2 separate regions of the Homo sapiens genome follow, and region 1 is linked to region 2. Evidence: fine-mapped expression QTL. A gene starts in region 2. The other region holds a variant in brackets. All regions are shown on one strand. Distances are between the middles of the regions. Region 1 holds the start of LOC107986482 (a long non-coding RNA gene). Region 2 holds the start of CPEB4 (cytoplasmic polyadenylation element binding protein 4).

Region 1 (9,894 bases), 110 kb before region 2:
TTGATACAGCACCTCCTTCCTGCCCTCCTTTCTGCCCCACCTCCTGCCTTCTGCCCCGGCTGGCCCATATCTGTTGCAATGGAGCACTTTAATTTCCTCCTTTGGTTTCATAATTCAAGGACAGCACCATCTGCCACATTAAATCCACGCTCTCTGCTTGCCTCCTTCTCAAAACAAGGGCTGGATGAAGGCTTCATCCGGTTTATTTCATGGATGAGCAAGAGCTGGCAAAACCAAATGGGGACAGCTTTGGCCTTGCAAGCTGCGTTCATCCCCTAATCTTCTGGTAGGGCCCCAGAGCTCGTTCTGTCGCCCCCACTGCCTGCCCCAGCCAAAACATGATGCTGCTGCTGATAGATGACGTTTACAGAGGCCTTTCTGAGTCAGGCATTTTCTTAAGTGCTGTAGATTCATTTATTTACTTCCCACTACATCTCTGTGATGAAGGGGCTGATCATAATAGCCCCACTTTAGAGATGCAGAGACTGAGGCCTGGGAGGCTTCAGAAATTTGCCAAAGGCCCACACAGCCAGCCAACAACAGAGACTGAATGTGAACTGGCTGCGGAAATGAACACAGACACACAAAGATAGCCAGCCTGAAAGAAGCTGGACTTCACAGCGGAGCTCTCTGACTGCTGATCTTTGAAAAGTTGAGGCTGGGCACAATGGCTCATGCCTGTAACTCCAGCACTTTGGGAGGCTGAGATAGGAGGATTGCTTGAGCCCAGGAGTTCAAGACTAGCCTGGGGAACATAGAAAGACTCAGAGACCCTGTCTCTACAAATATATATATATATTTTTAAATTAGCCAGGCATGGTAGTGCACACCTGTAGTCCCAACTACTCAGGAGGCTGAGACAGGAAGATCGCTTGAGCCCAGGAGGTTGAGGCTGCAGTGAGCTATGATTGCACCACTGTACTCCAGCCTGGTGGATAGTGAGACCTTGTCTCAAAAAATAAAAAAGTAAAGTAAAAGAAAAGTTGAGGTCATATTTCTTTATTCAACATTCCTGCAACACGTTTTACTGAGCAGCCTGCCATATGCCATGTGCCACTCTCCATGCAGGGGAGCGCCCCACGAGCAAGGCCCATGGGGGTCGCTCTCATAGGACCGATCTAGTCCACAAGACAGGCACCAAGTCAGCAACTGAACAAGCAGGCAGGATCATTTTAGGCTGTGACAAGGTGTCATGAAGGAAATACAGTGGGGGGCATGAGGCCGGGTGCGGTGGCTCAAGCCTGTAATCCCAGCACTTTGGGAGGCCAAGGTGGGTGGATCACGAGGTCAGGAGATTGAGACCATCCTGGCTAACACGGTGAAACCCCGTCTGTACTAAAAGTACAAAAAAAATTAGCCGGACGTGGTGGCGGGCGCCTGTAGTCCCAGCTACTCGGGAGGCTGAGGCAGGAGAATGGCGTGAACCCAGGAGGCGGAGCTTGCAGTGATCCGAGATTGCGCCACTGCACTCCAGCCTGGGTGACAGAGTGAGACTCTGTCTCAAAGAAGAAAAAAAAAAGAGAGAAAGAAACGGGCGATGCTCAGGGAAGCCTTCCTGAACGGGAGGGTCTCTGGGCTGAGGGGATTGAGGCTTGCTGTAGGCTTTCCCGACCTTGGCACTGTGGACATTGTGGATCCCATAACTCTTTGTTGGGGGGTTGGCCTATGCATTATAAGATGTTTAGCCGCATCCTTGGCCTTTACCCACGAGATGCCAGTAGCATCCCATTTTCCAGGGTGACAACCAAAAAATGCCCCCAGACATTGCCAGGTGTTCCCCTGGAGGGCAAAACCACCTCCAGTTGAGAACCCCTGAGTCACGAGACTGGCAAAGCGGACAACATGGGATGAAGGAATAGCCAGGCGGGCTGCAAAGCTGCTCAAAGTGTTTGAGATCCAGGAAGAAGGCTGGTTTGGCTGGAGGGCAATGGGCCAGGGAAGGATGGCAGGATCATCATGGCCACTTGCTCTGTGAAACTCTCCAGAAAGTACTCAGCAACATTCATGGAGTCCCTTTGCTGTGCCAGGCATTGTACTAGCTGTGCCCAAGGACACAGCACATGCTCCAAGGTGATAATAGTCGGGTGGCTGGATAAGACACAACAGCTGTCAGCCTGATGCTATCCATGGTAACAGAATATTCTGGACCAAAAGCAAGCAGAGAGGCACTCCAAGGGCAGTGGCCATGGTGAAAAAGATGCTGGAGAAGGCAATGTCTGGGCCCCTTTTTGAAGAGGAGAGAGCAGGCAGCTGTGGCCTTCACCTTCCCAGCTCCCGCCCCTCCATTGCCCATAGCAACTGCCTGTCCCCATGCCCAGCTGCACGCGGTTTTGGTGGAATTTCTAATTATGGTGCCCTGCTAGACTGGCCAAGGGGCTGGCATGAGACCCAAGCTTGGCCACCATATACTTTCTTCCTGGAATCAGGATATTGGCCAGAGAAACCCAAGGGCATTGAATGGCTAGAGTCAGTTTTTCTAATGGAAGTGGAACAAAGCATGTTCTTTTGTTCTGGCATAATTTTTTGACTATCTCAACTCCCTAAGAAGCAATTGTTTCTCTCTCTTCCAAGGCCTATTTTTCAGCTTTTCCTTCCAAAGCCCTTTCAATACACCTCTATTTAATTCACCAGAGTGGGTTTCCAATGTTTGAAACCCCAATTAAAATAGAAACAGTATAATGTGAACAGGGATAAGAGAGTGTAGGTTTCTGATTCACTGTGCTCACCACTTTACATTAAATAAGCTGTGTGTCCCTCTCTCTCCTAGTTACAAGCAGGATGCTTTGCCAAGGCCTGACTGTGTCTTTTTCTCTTCATATCCACAGTGCCCAGCTCAGGGTTGACTTCTCCTCTGCACCTGCCATGGTTTATAATTATGCATTTCTTTGTGGGATAATTTGTTTAATGTCATCTACTCTATGTTGGAAGTCCCATGAAAATAGAATGCATGGAGCCCAATTTATTAGGAAGACCAACTGTCCCAATTTGCCTGGGGTGGGGTGGGGGATTTCTGAGACATGGCTTCCAGGGCTAAAATCAGGAAAGTCCAGGGCAAATTGGAGCAGTGCCCACCCTACCAGTGTCTGGCATATAGGAAGTCTTCAAGCACCAGTTGTCCCGGTCACTCAAGGAATATATGTTGAGATGAACGGAGGCAAACTGCAGCACAGCAGAAGGCATATTCTTTCATGCAAAAACATTTCTTCATGCCTGCTGTGTGCCAGGTAACCAGCTTGTCAGAAGCAGAAGATTCAAGGAAGGAAATCCCAGCAGCCAGGGCTGCCATAGGATTGTAGGTTGAAATCACACTGCATGAGGTCTTGAGCATCAGGCTAAGAAACCAGCATGCAGCACCCAGATGAGGCAGGTCCCCTCTGATTTAGGAGAAGGGAGGAGATATGAAAACATAGTAATTTAGGAATGATGCATTGGCAGCGCCTCCCAGGGACTCTGATAAGGAAACCACTGCAGGAGGAATCCGCAGGGGCTACTGAAACAGGGGACAGAACCTGAAGTGAGCGGGTTATTTGGTTGTTTCTTTCCAAATTCTGCACTGGGCAGAGAGAGGGTTTAGCAACTTCCTTTTTCGTCTCAAGCACAGCCATCTGCTCAGTTCAACAAGCAGAAAATCCACCCCCAGGAAACGTGAATTTATTTGTGGGTATGTGATGGATCCTACGTCTTTACTCCTTAGGAAGATTCAGCTACACAACCCATGCCACGGGGCCATCCTCTTGATAGGTTTCAACTCTGTTGCTGAGCGGATGAGAACACGTTTATGTGCAGGTGCTATCGACAGTGTTTTTGTCTGCCTGCCCCCAACCCAGTCTTATATTGAAAGTGAACCCCCAGGCAATGGTATTAGTAGGGAGGCCTTTGGGAGGTGATTAGGTCATGAGGGTGGAGCCCCATTGATGAGATTAGTGCCCTTAGAAAGAGACCCCAGAGAGCTGCCTGGCCTCTTCTGCCATGTGAGGGCACAGCAAGAAGGAGCTGTCTGTGAACCACAAAGCAGACCCTCGTCAGATTCCAAACTGCCAGTGACTGATCTTCAACTTCCAGCCTCCAAAACTGCGAGGAATAAATTTCTGTAGTTTATAAGCCACCCAGTCTATGGTATTCTGCTATGGCAGCCTGGAATGACCAAGACAGCAGCCAAATGAACTTTTGGATGGGGCCTCGCAGACTTTCAGGGCCTGGAGATCCTCTGAGAAGAACATCTCTCTAATTCGGCTCCCTCATTTCAAAGCAGGGAAAGAATCTTATTTGCATGATATAATAAGCAAGAAGCTGGGGCTGGGCTGCTCTCTCTTTAACTCTTCTCAATAAAGAACTGAATCATACAATAGGGAGCCCCTTGCCCCTGGGGAGTAGGGGAAAGTGAAAAGACAGGGAAACAAATAGATTGCATCCTGTGGTAAGAGAGTTTTTCTCCTGTGAAAATTCTCTTTCAATCCTTGTCATTACACCAAGAAGAAAATCTCACTTTGGTACTAATAGGTCTTTAACGCCTCCCTCAAACTTTAACACCTCTCCAAATCTCCCTTTCAAATGGGAATCAAACAGGCCTCAAGCCCAGAGTCTTCCACAGGCAACCCTATTCCTCTAGAATTAAATATTCTAGAGTTTCATAATATCATTTTATTTTCGTGGTATATCTTTTTCTGGATAGCTTCTATTTGTAGCAGGTGGGATTGGCTTTCCATCTATGGTAGTAAGTTTTCCTTTTGAAGAAATGTATTTTAAGTTTTAAATGGGAGACAAGTTGAGGAAAAATAATGAGGGAAAGACTAGACCACATGATATGCAGTGATAGCAAAATTATCGGTAGACCTTAAACCATTGAAGTTTGAAAGCAGGAGTGGAGGACAGAGGGATGGGCTGGTGACCCTGGGGCCGCTCACCAGAGCAGGCTCCACACATGTTATTAAGCAAATGTCAAGCCTGAAATTTAAAAGGTGGCTCTTTAAATGAATTAGAGTCAGAGACACTGGAAAGTGCCAGGAAATTCTTCACGTGACCTTGAACAGACAGAAACCTCCTGAGATGAGAGAGTACAGGTCTATTATTTGACTTGGCAAAGGACCCTTCTGGTGGATAGGGGTGTCCCTTCTCTAAAAAATGATGTGCAGTGCATTTCTGTATGTTTCCTGTGAATAACCACTGAGGCACCAGCAAGGGGAGTCATGGGGGTAGAAGGACAGCCGCGGTAGCCATCACCCATTGAGACCCTGCTCAGCTCTGCCTGTGCTGCCAGGAGCCTCACCTCACCCTTTCAACAGCCCTTTCATGCTGATGCTAGTAACCTCTGACGCTTATGGAGCACACACTGTATGCCAACATCTCTTCAAAGCCTTCATTCATTCATTTAATCCAAACAGTAACCCAAGGAGACCATCATTATTACTCCCACTTTACAGATCAGAAAACTGAGGTGGAAAGGGTAGGTCACAGCTGGTGGTCAGTGGTAGAGGCAGATTCAAGCCCAGACATTCCGGCTCCAGAGCCTACACTCCAACTTTGTGGAGGGGAGTGACAGAGGAGGATGCACAGCTACTAAATTGTAAAGTCAGCAAAACCATCCTCCCCAAGGTGGCATTTCCCCCAAAAGCAAGCTATTGCATTAATTCAACAAATGTTTGTTGAGCATCTACTATGTGGGAAAGACCCTCTTTTTGTTCCAGTCATCGGCAGCTGGGGGCTCTAGGTCCATCCCTGCCCTCCCCGAAGCAGGAGAGTAACCTTGTAGACTTCCTGTTAGGGCCCTGGGGTCTCTGGGTGAATTTGATGCAGACTCAGCCATTAGCCTGGCTGGGCCACAAAATCAGGAAGCTTAGACCAGTG[T/C]TGTGGAACCTTGATTCCTGTCCCAGTTTTGTCATTTCCTGCCTCAGCCTCTTTGCAACTCCCGGCCTCAATTGCCTCACCTCCAAAATGGAGGTCTTAATGACAATGGTCTGGCTTCACTCACAGGGTTATCGTGAAAATCAAAAGAGATTGCTCAGGGAAAAGCCTCTTCAAACTGGAGCTCCAGGTGATGGTTGTCATCTGTCGATGTTGCTCTCTGGTGAGTTCTTTAAAAATGGAAATTACTGTTTGTTTCTAATTACAAAAGTTCAGGAGTTACAGAATAGCACACAGATTTTTAAACACGGTTTATTACCCCACTACTTGTTAATAATCTCTACTAACCTGTTGGTGTATTTCCTTCCGGATACATAAAGAGAGTTGAACCCTGAACGATATGGAAGTTGGGGTGTTGACCCCCCTCAGAGTTGAAAATCTGCATACAACTTTTGACTCCCCAAAACACTACAGATAGCCTACTGTTGACTGCAAGCCTTGCTGAGAACATAAACAGTCAATTAACATATTTTGTATGTTATATGTATTGTATACTGTATTCTTACAATAAAGGAAGCTAGAGTAAAGAAAATGTTATTGAGAAAATCATAAGGAAGAGAAAGTATATTTACGTTCACTACGCAGAAGTGACTCAGCATAAAGGTCTTCACCCTTGTCATCATCAACTCGAGTAGGCTGAGGAGGAGGAAAAGGAGTGGTTGGTCCTGCTCTCTCAGGGGTGGCAGAGGTGGAAGAAAAGTCACCTGTAAGTGGACCTGTGCAGTTCAAACCTGTGTTGTTTGAAGGTCAACTGTATGATGATTGCCTACATAGAACCCGGTAGCTTTCTACAGCACTTGGAAGGAAATCCACACTCCTTATCAACACTTCACCTTGACTTTCAGTCTGTGTGATCTGGCCCTGCTTGCCTCTCCTACCTCTTCTCTCTCTACTCACACATTATTTCTCTTTCTTTTTCCCTCCTAATACACCAATGGCATTTCCCCTCAAGGCCTTCGCCTCTTTGCCTGAAATGCTCTGGATTTCATGACTCTGGAAATCATGACTGGATTTTTTTTTTTTCAGCGTGCAAGTCATGGCCGAAATGTCACCTCCTTGGATAGTCCCTCCATCTTCACGCACACTAAACTAGTCCATCTTGCATGCCTTTCTTCATGGCATTGTGTGCCATGCTCAGAAATTATCTTGTGTATTCTTAAGTCCATATATGTATTACCTGTCTTTCCCTAAACAACTTCCCACCCTGAGCTTGTTCCTGTCCATATTCCCAGTACCCAGAATGGTGCTTGGCATACAGCACATCTTCATTACATAGTTAATAAGTGAATGAATTGGATTAATGTACTTGTGAGCTAGGATCATACTATATTTAATGTTTTTATAACTGATTTTTCCCTGCTATGGTGTGACCACCTTGACTTTGAATGGAAGTGTAGCATTCCCTTGTATGGGTGGATCAAAATTTCTTTTCTTTTCTTTTTTTTTTTTTTTTTGAGACTGAATCTCACTCTATCACCCAGGCTGGAGTGCAGTGGCACGATCTCTGCTCACTGCAACCTCTGCCTCCCAGGTTCAAGTGATTCTTGTGCCTCAGCCTCCTGAATAGCTGGGATTATAGGCACACACCATCATGCCAGGCTAATTTTTGTAGAGACGGGGTTTCACCATATTGGCTCGAATTCCTGACCTCAGGTGATCTGCCTGCCTCAGCCTCCAAAAGTGCTGGGATTACAGCCATGAGCCACTGCACCCGGCCTGGATCATAATTTTTAACTAAGCCCCCATTACTGACTAGGTGGGACATTTCTGATTCTTGTGTTTGTAAGTTAATACTACATTCTACAGTGACCATCTTTGTCCATACACACATTTTCTCATCTCTCCATGACCACTTCCCTTGGATTAATTCCTAGCAGTAAAATTGAGGGAACAAAGGGTTACATCGTTTTAATCCTCTTCATATATATTACCATGGTCTGCAGAAAGGTTGTATCATCTCTGAGTTTGCTGTAATGGCCCTTAGCTTGTGGGCTTCTCAGCAGAATGCTCTGAAGACCATGGAAATATCATTGTCTCCTCTTACCCAGGAGAGTAAAGGTTGAGGCCCTCCAGCAAGACAGATCATGCCCACTTACTCTGCAGAAACTTCCTCCCTTTCCAATAACAGGAACAACTCCTAGCTCTGCTGCTCAGGCCCAATGTGTGATACACAGGAATCCCCTAAGCAGTGATGTTCCGAAGTTAGAAGTCACCCCAGCCAGGCTGAAGAGCTTATCATTCAAGAAGCTAATACCAGCCAGCCAGACTGTGCCAGCTCAACCTTCCTCCTTTTGTTCTCCAAAGCACACCTTGCCTTGGTTACCTGACCTTCACTAAGCTCAGCCCATATTTGGCCAAACCATCTGGGCCTCTGCTCAACGTGCCTTTGCTTTGTTACCTGTTCCACATCATTTTTCAAGGTCTAGCTTTACTCCCCACCTAAACTTTCACCTTCTAGAAAGCCCCTTTTCATAGTACAGCTCTCAGGGAGATCTCCCAGCCCAGAACTGCCCATAACTCTGATTACCAGCCTCTCCGTCAGCATTTGCCCATCTAACCACTTTGTGTTGTTTATATACCTTTGTGCATGAGTAACTCTAAATTTTCAACTGAGTGTTTTTCTCTCTCTGGGAGCTCACGCATAGTGTGACAGTCAGAACCTTTGAGATAATCAGGGCTGGGATTGAGCCTCAACTCTGCCACCCACTAGTTCTGTGCATTTGGGCAGCACAGTCAACTCTACTGAGCCTCAGTTGCTCCATCTATAAAATGGGGGTTACTATAGCACGAATTTGAAAAGATTGCTCCAAGAATTCGATGCATGCAAAATACTTAGCATAGTGCCTCCCACAGAATGATTATTAAAAAATCAGCAGCAGGCCGGGAGCGGTGGCTCATGCCTGCAATCCCAGCACTTTGGGAGGCTGAGGCGGGCAGATTGCCTAAGCTCAGGAGTTCGTGATTAGCTTTGGCAACATGGTGAAACATCGTCTCTACTAAAATACAAAAAATTAGCCACCCGAGATGGTGTGCCCCTGTGGTCCCAGCTATTTGGGAGGCTGAGGCAGGAGAATTGCTTGAACCCGAGACGTGGAGCTTGCAGTGAGCCGAGATGGCACCACTGCACTTCAGCCTCGGTGACAGAGTGAAACTCCGTCTTAAAAAACAAAAACAAAAACAAAAAACAGCAACAAAATGGGGATATTCATCCTAATTTTGTTTTTCTAGACCTCTACAAAGGCTGAGCCAGTAATGTGTACAATGTTAAAAGAAATATTTGTGGAATGGAATGAGCGGATGTTGTGTAAACATTCATTGTGCGTGTACGTATTTAGTTCTACTAACCAGAACACTGGGGGACCAGAACCAGTTACCCCAGTGTCTAGAGAGGAGGAAAGAAATCTCTCTCCTTAGCTGAAACCTTAGTAAGAGCTCAGTCCAGAGCTTGCTTGAAAGTAAAGATATGTCATCCAATTTAATCCCCACACCAACCTTACAGAAAGATCTTTTTATATCCTTATGCTAAGAAGACCTACCACTGACTGTGCCAGATCTGTGCAAGATGCTTTTGAAAAATGTAATTCCCTTTAAGCCCTCACACTATCTCAATGAGACAAGAATTATTATTACTGAAGAGGAAATGGGGTCAGAAAGTTTAAGTGAACTGCTCAAGGGCAAATGGGTAGTAAGAGAAGAAAGAAGATGAGTCAGGATTGAACAGAGGCTTACTCTGTTCAAATAAATAAAATTAAATTAAAACGGTTGCCTCTTCACCAACTGATTCCCTGACATTCTCACATGCGTTCAGTTGGTGCTTAATAGGAACTGAATTGAAATCTCATGGTGATCTGTTAGAGACTTGGATCTTCTAATAGATGCTTCAAAGGGAGCAGTTTCTATTTCCGGTGCCCACGGAGATCTCGAGGGAGATTTCTCCCCACCCCTGCTCTGACGTCACGATGTTCTTGTTTTTCTCTGGGCCCTGTGACTCAG
Region 2 (8,000 bases):
GGCCTGGACCATATACTTGTCCAGACTTGTCTTCTCACTACAGCTCACTAACCAAAACCAATACCAAGGACACAGTGTCCTTCAATTCAATTACAGAAAGTTCCTGGGCTGCTAACTCTAAAAGGATCAAGTGCTTTAAATATTTCTGCAGGCAATAAGCATGGCTCATGTAATGAGCTTTTTTTGTATGTGTGTCATATTTGTATAATGTGCCCCTGTGTCTTAGAAAAAAAGAACTGAAACAGGGCTGCTGCCTTGTACAACTCCATTGGATGCATTCACATACTAGTCTGTGGTGCCTTATGAAGTTGCACAGTGCACAACCAGGGCAGCCTTGGGTAGTGGTCCTGATTTTTGGTCATTAGACAAGCCTCTGGGGAGCTCGGGTGTGGGCTATTGGGAGAAGGCTGACAATGCATGCTTCAAGGAAAGTGGTGGGAGACATTAGAGCTGGACTGGGGCAGAGTTCACCTTGTGTGATTATGGGGTGAGATTTCTACTGCTTGCCGAGCTTTAAAAGAGGCTGGTGAAGGAGATATTAATGCCCTGCTTCCTGGAAGGCTCTAGGTTCTGGGTGTGGTTGACCTCAAACCCCAGAGGGGGCTGGGCAGTAGCTACCAGGTTACAGGCATTCCCCAGCCTACAACTTCTCTGAAGGTGTGTTAGCCCTCATTGTACTAGACAGGGATAGAGCTTTTTAATTTTTTTTTTTTTTTAACTAGTAGCACCTTAATGTTTGGGCAGAACTTGCTTCCCCTGCAACCCAAAAACTTTCTGGTGAGCACACTTCATGAAAAAGGCTCTCTTCTGCCAGCAGAGTGCTCAAGCCAGCACTCACCTACATCTGTAGATCCTTTTGGAGATCCTAAATGGAGCTGCTGAATTGTTGTCATGGTTACCATGGGAAGTTTCTGAGGCCAGAATGTTTTCAAGGAGCGCAGCCCTGGGCTCTGGGTATCCTGGGTTCCTGAGTAGGCAACTGATGCCAAAAAAAAAAAAGAAAAAAGAAAAGAAAATAATAGATTTCCCCCTTCCTTCTTCCATACTTCCAGTCCCTAAGCAAGAGTCTGATGTCTTAGTGATCATCCTAGCTGCAAACCATCCCAATCTACTGCCCACACCTGACTTAGCCTTAAAAGATTAGCCCGACTTGGCAGCACCTGACTGTGGCCCTGGGCGTCTCCACCTTTTATCAACCAAGACAAGTTCCTGGATTCCCTTGTGCACACAGCTGCTTCTAGGCAAAAGACACTTGTGAAGGAATTCCCTGCATTTAATGTGTTACAAAGGAAGTGACATTTTTGATCACCTCTGATATGGTTTGGCTCTGTGTCCCCACCCAACTCTTATCTCAAATTGTAATCCTTATGTGTAGACAGAGGGAGGTGATTGGATCAAGGGGGCAGTTTCCCCATGCTGTTCTCCTGATAGTGAGTTCTCATGAGCTCTGATGGTTTTATAAGTGTTTGACAGTTCTTCTTTCACTCTGGTCTCTCCTGCCGCCTTGTGAAGAAAGTGCTTGCTTCCCCTTCGCCTTCCGGCATGATTGTAAGTTTCCTGAGGCTTCCCCAGTCACGTGGAACTGTGAGTCAATTAAACCTCTTTCCTTTATAAATTACCCAGTCTTGGGCATTTCTTTATAGCAGTGTGAAAATGGACTAATAAAACTTTTTAGGAGTCCAGCACTTCACATGTATCCCATGTAATTTACAAACTTAGCAAGAGAGGAAATATCATTCACATTTTATCTAGAAGGAACCAAGGGCTTATAGAGGTGATGCCCAGTTTTGCACAGCTAGGAAGCAGCAGAGCTGGGATTCAAATTCAGGGCTGTTTGGTTCCAAAGGTGCTCTTTTTTCCAAGTCATGGCTGCCATTTTAGCCACTGATAATTAGTAGCTCTGAGGGACCCTAAACCATCTTCTGGGCATGGAACATTCATTTGTTCATTCAATAAATGTGTTCTGAGTTTTGAGTCTGCTCTGTGCCAGACCCTCTTCTGGCCACTGGGGACATAAAGATAAATCAGACACAACCTCTGCCCTTAAGAAACTAACCCACTGACAACCAGCAGTAATTAAAAGAGAGCAATCTACAAGACATTAGAGAGAGGGCCAGTCAAGGAAACCATTCTGGCGGAAAAGACACCTGACGGAACCAGCTAAGTTTCCAGGCATGTCCAGTTGTAGGGAATAAACAGCAGGTAAGACCCAATCTCTATGCTCAAAGAATCCATAGTAGAGTTACAGAGACAAGACTCATGCTCATGGCACAATGAAAGAGAATAAAATCACCGATTGAAGGCCCTCAGGTGTTCTACACGGAAGTGATGGAGGATTGACAGACTGAGGCAGAAGTTGAGACCATTAGAGGAAGGCTATGGAAATGAAATGGAAGCCACCTTTGTTCATACTATTTTTCATTAATCTTGGTATCTTTTTTTTCCCTCTAGTTGTGCCAGTTACTTCTGGCTCTACCCTGATTTCTTTGTTCATTTTTCTTCCTGCTAAAGGAAAATACTCACTTATTTAACATATTTAAAGCTGTGCTGAGAGCAAAGCATTATCCTAAGCCCTGATGGTGGTCATAGCGTTGGGAATGTACAAAGATAAACAGGACATTAAAGCCCTTGAGTACCAAACATAATGAAAAGTCTGATATGTGAGCTCCAAACCAAATGGCAAAAGGAAGGAAATAATTAATTCAGACTTGGAAACAGGAGTGAGGGGTGGGGGGTGGGTGACGGGTGGAAGGGGTGGCAGTGGGTTGGGGGGCTGTCACTCAGGGAAGACTTCATTGTTGCTGGTTTGTTCATTCACGTTTTCAGGATTCATTCACTGATGTCTCCTATCTACAATGTCTGCTCCTGAAAGAGCCCACGGTCCAGCACAGGTCTGGAAGACATAAACCATCACAATATAGTGTGAGAAACAAGCACGAGAGGTACACAGGGCCGTGGACGCTTATAAGAGAGAATTCAGAAGATGCTGTTGGTGGCTTTTGAACTGATTCCTAGAAATAAATAGGAATTTACCAAAGGAGAAGAGTGGAAAGGACATGTAAAAAGGCATTGAGAGTGTGTTTGGAGGGGGAAGAGGCACTAAGATATACCACCCATTAGGTAGAAAGGCTTGAATACCAGACTAACAAGTTTGGCCTTTATCTTCGAAATAATGGGCAACCATAGAAGAAATCGGAGCATGTGAGGGTCAAGATAAAATTTTAGTTTTGGAATTTTCCCTCTGGTATTGCGTGTAAGGTGTACTAGATCGGGATGATACGGGGGCATAGCCACAGACGCCTCAGCTGCATCTCTGCACCTGGGAGACTGCACCAGATGCGAGCCTAGCAGAATGGGAGAGTGGGAGGTGCGGGTGAGCGAATGGAAGGTTAAGGGAGAGTCCCTCGTGAGGTCTACATTCTGGGCAAGGGCAAACGCAGTTCTAGGCACCGCACAGCTGCTGGCAAGACCCGCCTCCCCTTCCAGATCCCTCTGGGGCGGAGCTCGGGCCAGAGCACGTGATGCTTGGAGCACCACCTTTACTGTGGGCACCCTTCTCATTCATCCGCGGTTTCACGGGCCGCCACTTCGATCTCCAACACCTTGACCGTATGCCTTCGTGAGCGAGGAATCCGTTCTCCTTGACACGTCCCTATTGCTCCTCCTGCAAAGCCCAGTTAGGGAAGAGAAATATCAAAGGAGTCCCTTGCCCACACAAAAGATGGCGACCTGCTGCGCTCACTCTGGGTGGGGGAAGCGGGTTCCAGGCGCCGGGCCTCACTAGGCGAGGCGCAGACGGAAGAGGCGTCTCTGGAGGTAACTTTTCGACCTTCCTGGGAGTAGCTCTGAAGCGAGGGGGCGTGGCCTCGCCTGAGTTCTAACAGATGATTGGTCTTCCGGCAGGTAGGTGGGGAATGAGTGCTACCCCCACCCCTCCCTCTTCGAACCGGAAGTGTCTCTGGGTCTTTCCAGCTGGTTGTCATTTCACTCGGCTCGGTCCTGAGGAGAAGGACTCAGCCGCGGCTGCGGGACCCGGGCACCGGGAGGCGGTGGCGGCGGCGGCGGCGGCAGCAGCGGCGACAGCAGAGGAGGAAGAGGAGGAAGAAGGAAAGAAAAAGAAGAACCAGGAGGAGTCCTCAACAACGACAGCGGGGACTGCGGGACCAGGGTAAAGCGGCGACGGCGGCGACGGCCCAGCAACCGTGAGGAGAAACAAAAGCCTTCTAAATTATAGTTTAAAAAAAAATTCTGGGGGAAAAGAGAGAGAAAGCCGAGGGGGGAGGCCCTTCTCCTTTAAAATAACTACGGTAGTGGGTTTTTCCTTTTTTTCCTCTTTTTTCCCTCTCTGCGGAGAATCGAACTGAGGGAACTGAACAAACCGCCCCTGGGTCCCATGAGGGAAAAAAACCCCGGAGCCGCAGAGAGGGGAAGAGGCAGAAACCGCAGGACCTTCCAGGTCGCCCCCTCGGTCCCCGCACCCCCAGGCCGCCCGCTCACCCTCGTCGAGTCTCGCTAATCCCTCCTGATCGCGACCCCCGCAAGAGGGAGAAACGGGTGTTTCCAACCCCTTTCATGGGGGAGAGGAAGCCGCGGGGAGCCCAGGAACAGCGACCGCAGCAAGATCTGCACCCGGAGCCTCAGGAACAGCCCCAGAGGCCAAAACTGCACCCTGCGAAAGAGCAGAAAACAGGACCAGGAACAGCAGAAACCTCCCTGCAATCATCTTTCCATTAGTCAATGCTGATTTCCTCTCCCGAAACCAGGAATTCACTTCCCACCCCAGATAACCTAATATAATCTATATATATAAATATATAATATATAATGTTCTTAAATTATTCCTGATTTTTTTTTAACCAAGCTGCCAAGAAAAGAACGTATTCCCCTCTTAGTCCTATTCTAATTTTTATGTGAGTGAATCTAAACTGCTGAGGAAAACCATATGTGATTGTTAAATTATATATATCTATATTTTTACTCCGCGCAAGGCTTATTCTTCTACATCCATAGATGCTTGAGAAGCTCTGTTTTTGTCATTCATGTACATTTTCCTTTGGAAAAAGAAAGCGCCTATTTTACTAACCAAAGACTTGATTTTTACCCTCTTCATTTTTATTCCCTCCTAAAAATAAGCCCAATTGGATCCAAGTCAATGTTTTAAGAGATTTTTTTAAGAGTTGTTTTTTCTTTCAGAGACCAGAATTCCAAATCAGAACAATTTAAGGTGATAAGCTGCGATCTTTGAGCTAGCTATAAATAAGACATTTCAAGCAAGCAAGCAAACAACTTAAATTTGGGGTAGAGGAAAAAAAAGGCGTGAGACATCAGGTTGTCATTTTTTATTGTGAGATTCTGCTCCTAAAGATAATAAATGGGGGATTACGGGTTTGGAGTGCTAGTGCAAAGCAATACTGGGAATAAATCTGCTTTTCCAGTCAGATTCCATCCACATCTGCAGCCTCCACACCATCACCAAAATGCCACCCCCAGCCCTGCTGCTTTTATAAATAATAACACAGCTGCCAATGGCAGCAGTGCTGGGTCAGCTTGGCTTTTTCCTGCTCCAGCTACCCATAACATTCAGGATGAGATCTTGGGGTCAGAAAAAGCAAAAAGTCAGCAACAGGAACAGCAAGACCCCTTAGAAAAGCAGCAGCTTTCCCCAAGTCCAGGTCAGGAAGCTGGAATACTGCCTGAAACAGAGAAGGCAAAATCAGAAGAAAATCAAGGGGACAATTCTTCGGAAAATGGCAATGGGAAGGAGAAAATAAGGATCGAATCTCCAGTGTTGACAGGGTTTGATTATCAAGAAGCCACTGGGCTAGGTACTTCAACCCAACCCTTGACATCTAGCGCATCGTCTCTTACTGGTTTCAGTAACTGGTCAGCAGCGATAGCGCCTTCCTCCTCTACAATAATCAATGAAGATGCAAGTTTCTTTCACCAGGGAGGGGTCCCTGCTGCTTCGGCTAATAACGGTGCTCTGTTGTTTCAAAATTTCCCCCATCATGTCAGCCCTGGCTTTGGAGGCAGCTTCTCTCCTCAGATCGGGCCTCTCTCACAGCACCACCCACATCACCCTCATTTCCAGCATCATCACAGCCAGCATCAGCAGCAAAGGAGGTCTCCTGCCAGTCCCCATCCCCCACCCTTCACACATAGAAATGCTGCTTTTAACCAGCTGCCTCATTTGGCGAATAATCTTAACAAACCCCCCTCTCCGTGGAGCAGCTACCAGAGTCCGTCACCAACACCCTCCTCTTCCTGGAGCCCGGGCGGTGGTGGATATGGTGGCTGGGGAGGTTCCCAAGGCCGAGATCACCGCAGAGGGCTGAATGGTGGAATAACGCCCCTGAACTCCATCTCGCCTTTGAAGAAAAATTTTGCAAGCAATCATATTCAGCTCCAGAAGTATGCTCGCCCCAGCTCTGCCTTTGCACCTAAATCCTGGATGGAAGATAGCTTGAACAGGGCTGACAACATTTTTCCTTTTCCGGTAAGATTATGTTCCATTAATAGATTAGGATGAATAAGGAAATAGCATGGTGTAATATCTATGTAACTAGAGTTTGAAGTGCCCGTATTCACATCAGAGCTTTTCTTAGAGAGAAAATGAATCAATAACCAGACTTTATTTTAGCAGGAGTGTAATTGGAACAAAATATTCAGCTGTTTCTTTGGCAGTTTTCTAAATTGTAGCCTTAATCTTGTCATAGATAATTATGAATACCTGGTAGCTGGTGATGTAGTAATTATTAACTATAATACCTTTCTTGCCTGACATGAGAATCAGGGTCAGTTTTTTCCCTATTTAGATGAGAATAAATAATATATAGATATAAATATATTTCATTGCAGAAACTATTGAATGTTTTCTGAAGTAACTATATAACTAAACAAATTTCTTTTGACACTATAAGGTAGTGATTCACTGAAAACCAGCTATTGAATTACAGTTTTCTCACTGGTTGGTTGCATTTTAAACCTGGAAACTCTCTGAACCTTGTAGGTCTGAACAGCCTGAATTGATGGACTTGGCAATTCCTCTTAAACCTCTGCAAATTTTGGCCTACCTTTCATCAGTAAGGACTATCTAGTGAGAGAAATGATCTAAATGTTTTCTTCATCCCCATTTATTTTTGAACACTGTGAAACTGTTCATCTCAGAGTGACTCTTTATGCCTTTCACCCGTTTGTTTATTTTCCAATGTTAACATTGAAGATGTAGATAATTAAACCATTCCTAAAAATAGATCCAGGCAAAGATCATTTGTCTTTCTTGCTACCAGAATATCTTTATTCTGGCAAGAGTCATTGATGTTTTTGAATTAATGAGCAGCAAGTTAGGTTGATATGAACTAGATAAAGGGAATTTCATAGGTGGTTGAACGTCAGATGCTCCACTAAATGTATATACTTTGAGGGTATGATTATATGTGTTTAGGAAATTTATAAGGGGTAAGAATCTAGCATTGAATCTAGTTTTCCCAACAACCTCACAAGATGAGTTCTGTTATTATCCCCATTTTACAGATGCAGAAATTGAATATGAGAAATATATAATAACTTAGCCAAGGGTACACAGCTGGTCAGAGTACAAATTCTAAGTTAAAAAAAAAAACAAACCCAAGGATTGAAAATATGTATACATACATGTGTGCACGTACACATGTGCTACAGCTAGAGGGTTACTTTAGAAATATTTCTGCAAAGGCTGAAACAGATTATAGAATCATTGCACTGTTCCCAAATACGATGTTAGCCCTAGCAGAATTATCTGTTTTAATTAGTAATTGACTGAGAGGGAGGGGAAGTTTGCTAAGAGAACCCTATGTCATTCCTTTCCTAAGGATTCAGGTGCAGTGCATCTTAAAATATGTGGGTATATTTAGTTTTCGACTTCTAAAAACGATTTTTTTTTTTTTTTGCCTATCAAAAAGCTGTTGGCATTTGCTTTAAAGGGTTTCAGTTGTTAAAACCAAAGATCAATTACTGTGCTT

Evidence for each region.
Region 1: its variant is fine-mapped to the expression of CPEB4 in whole blood (TOPMed, PIP above 0.99).

The regions. Positions count from the first base shown.
Region 1 is chr5:173,772,378-173,782,271 of GRCh38, forward strand. LOC107986482 (a long non-coding RNA gene) reads left to right here and starts at 5,899. Exons shown (of 2, transcript XR_001743004.2): 1 at 5,899-6,064. LOC124901138 (a long non-coding RNA gene) reads right to left here and starts at 80. Exons shown (of 2, transcript XR_007059060.1): 1 at 1-80. RefSeq lists enhancers at 5,393-6,592, 6,349-6,643, 6,469-6,688, 9,819-9,894 and a cis regulatory region at 9,886-9,894. The variant T/C (reference allele first, on the strand shown) is at 5,845.
Region 2 is chr5:173,884,363-173,892,362 of GRCh38, forward strand. CPEB4 (cytoplasmic polyadenylation element binding protein 4) reads left to right here and starts at 3,987. Exons shown (of 10, transcript NM_030627.4): 1 at 3,987-6,496. The coding sequence starts at 5,372. RefSeq lists enhancers at 278-527, 3,494-3,733, 5,758-6,259, 6,260-6,759 and a silencer at 6,264-6,558.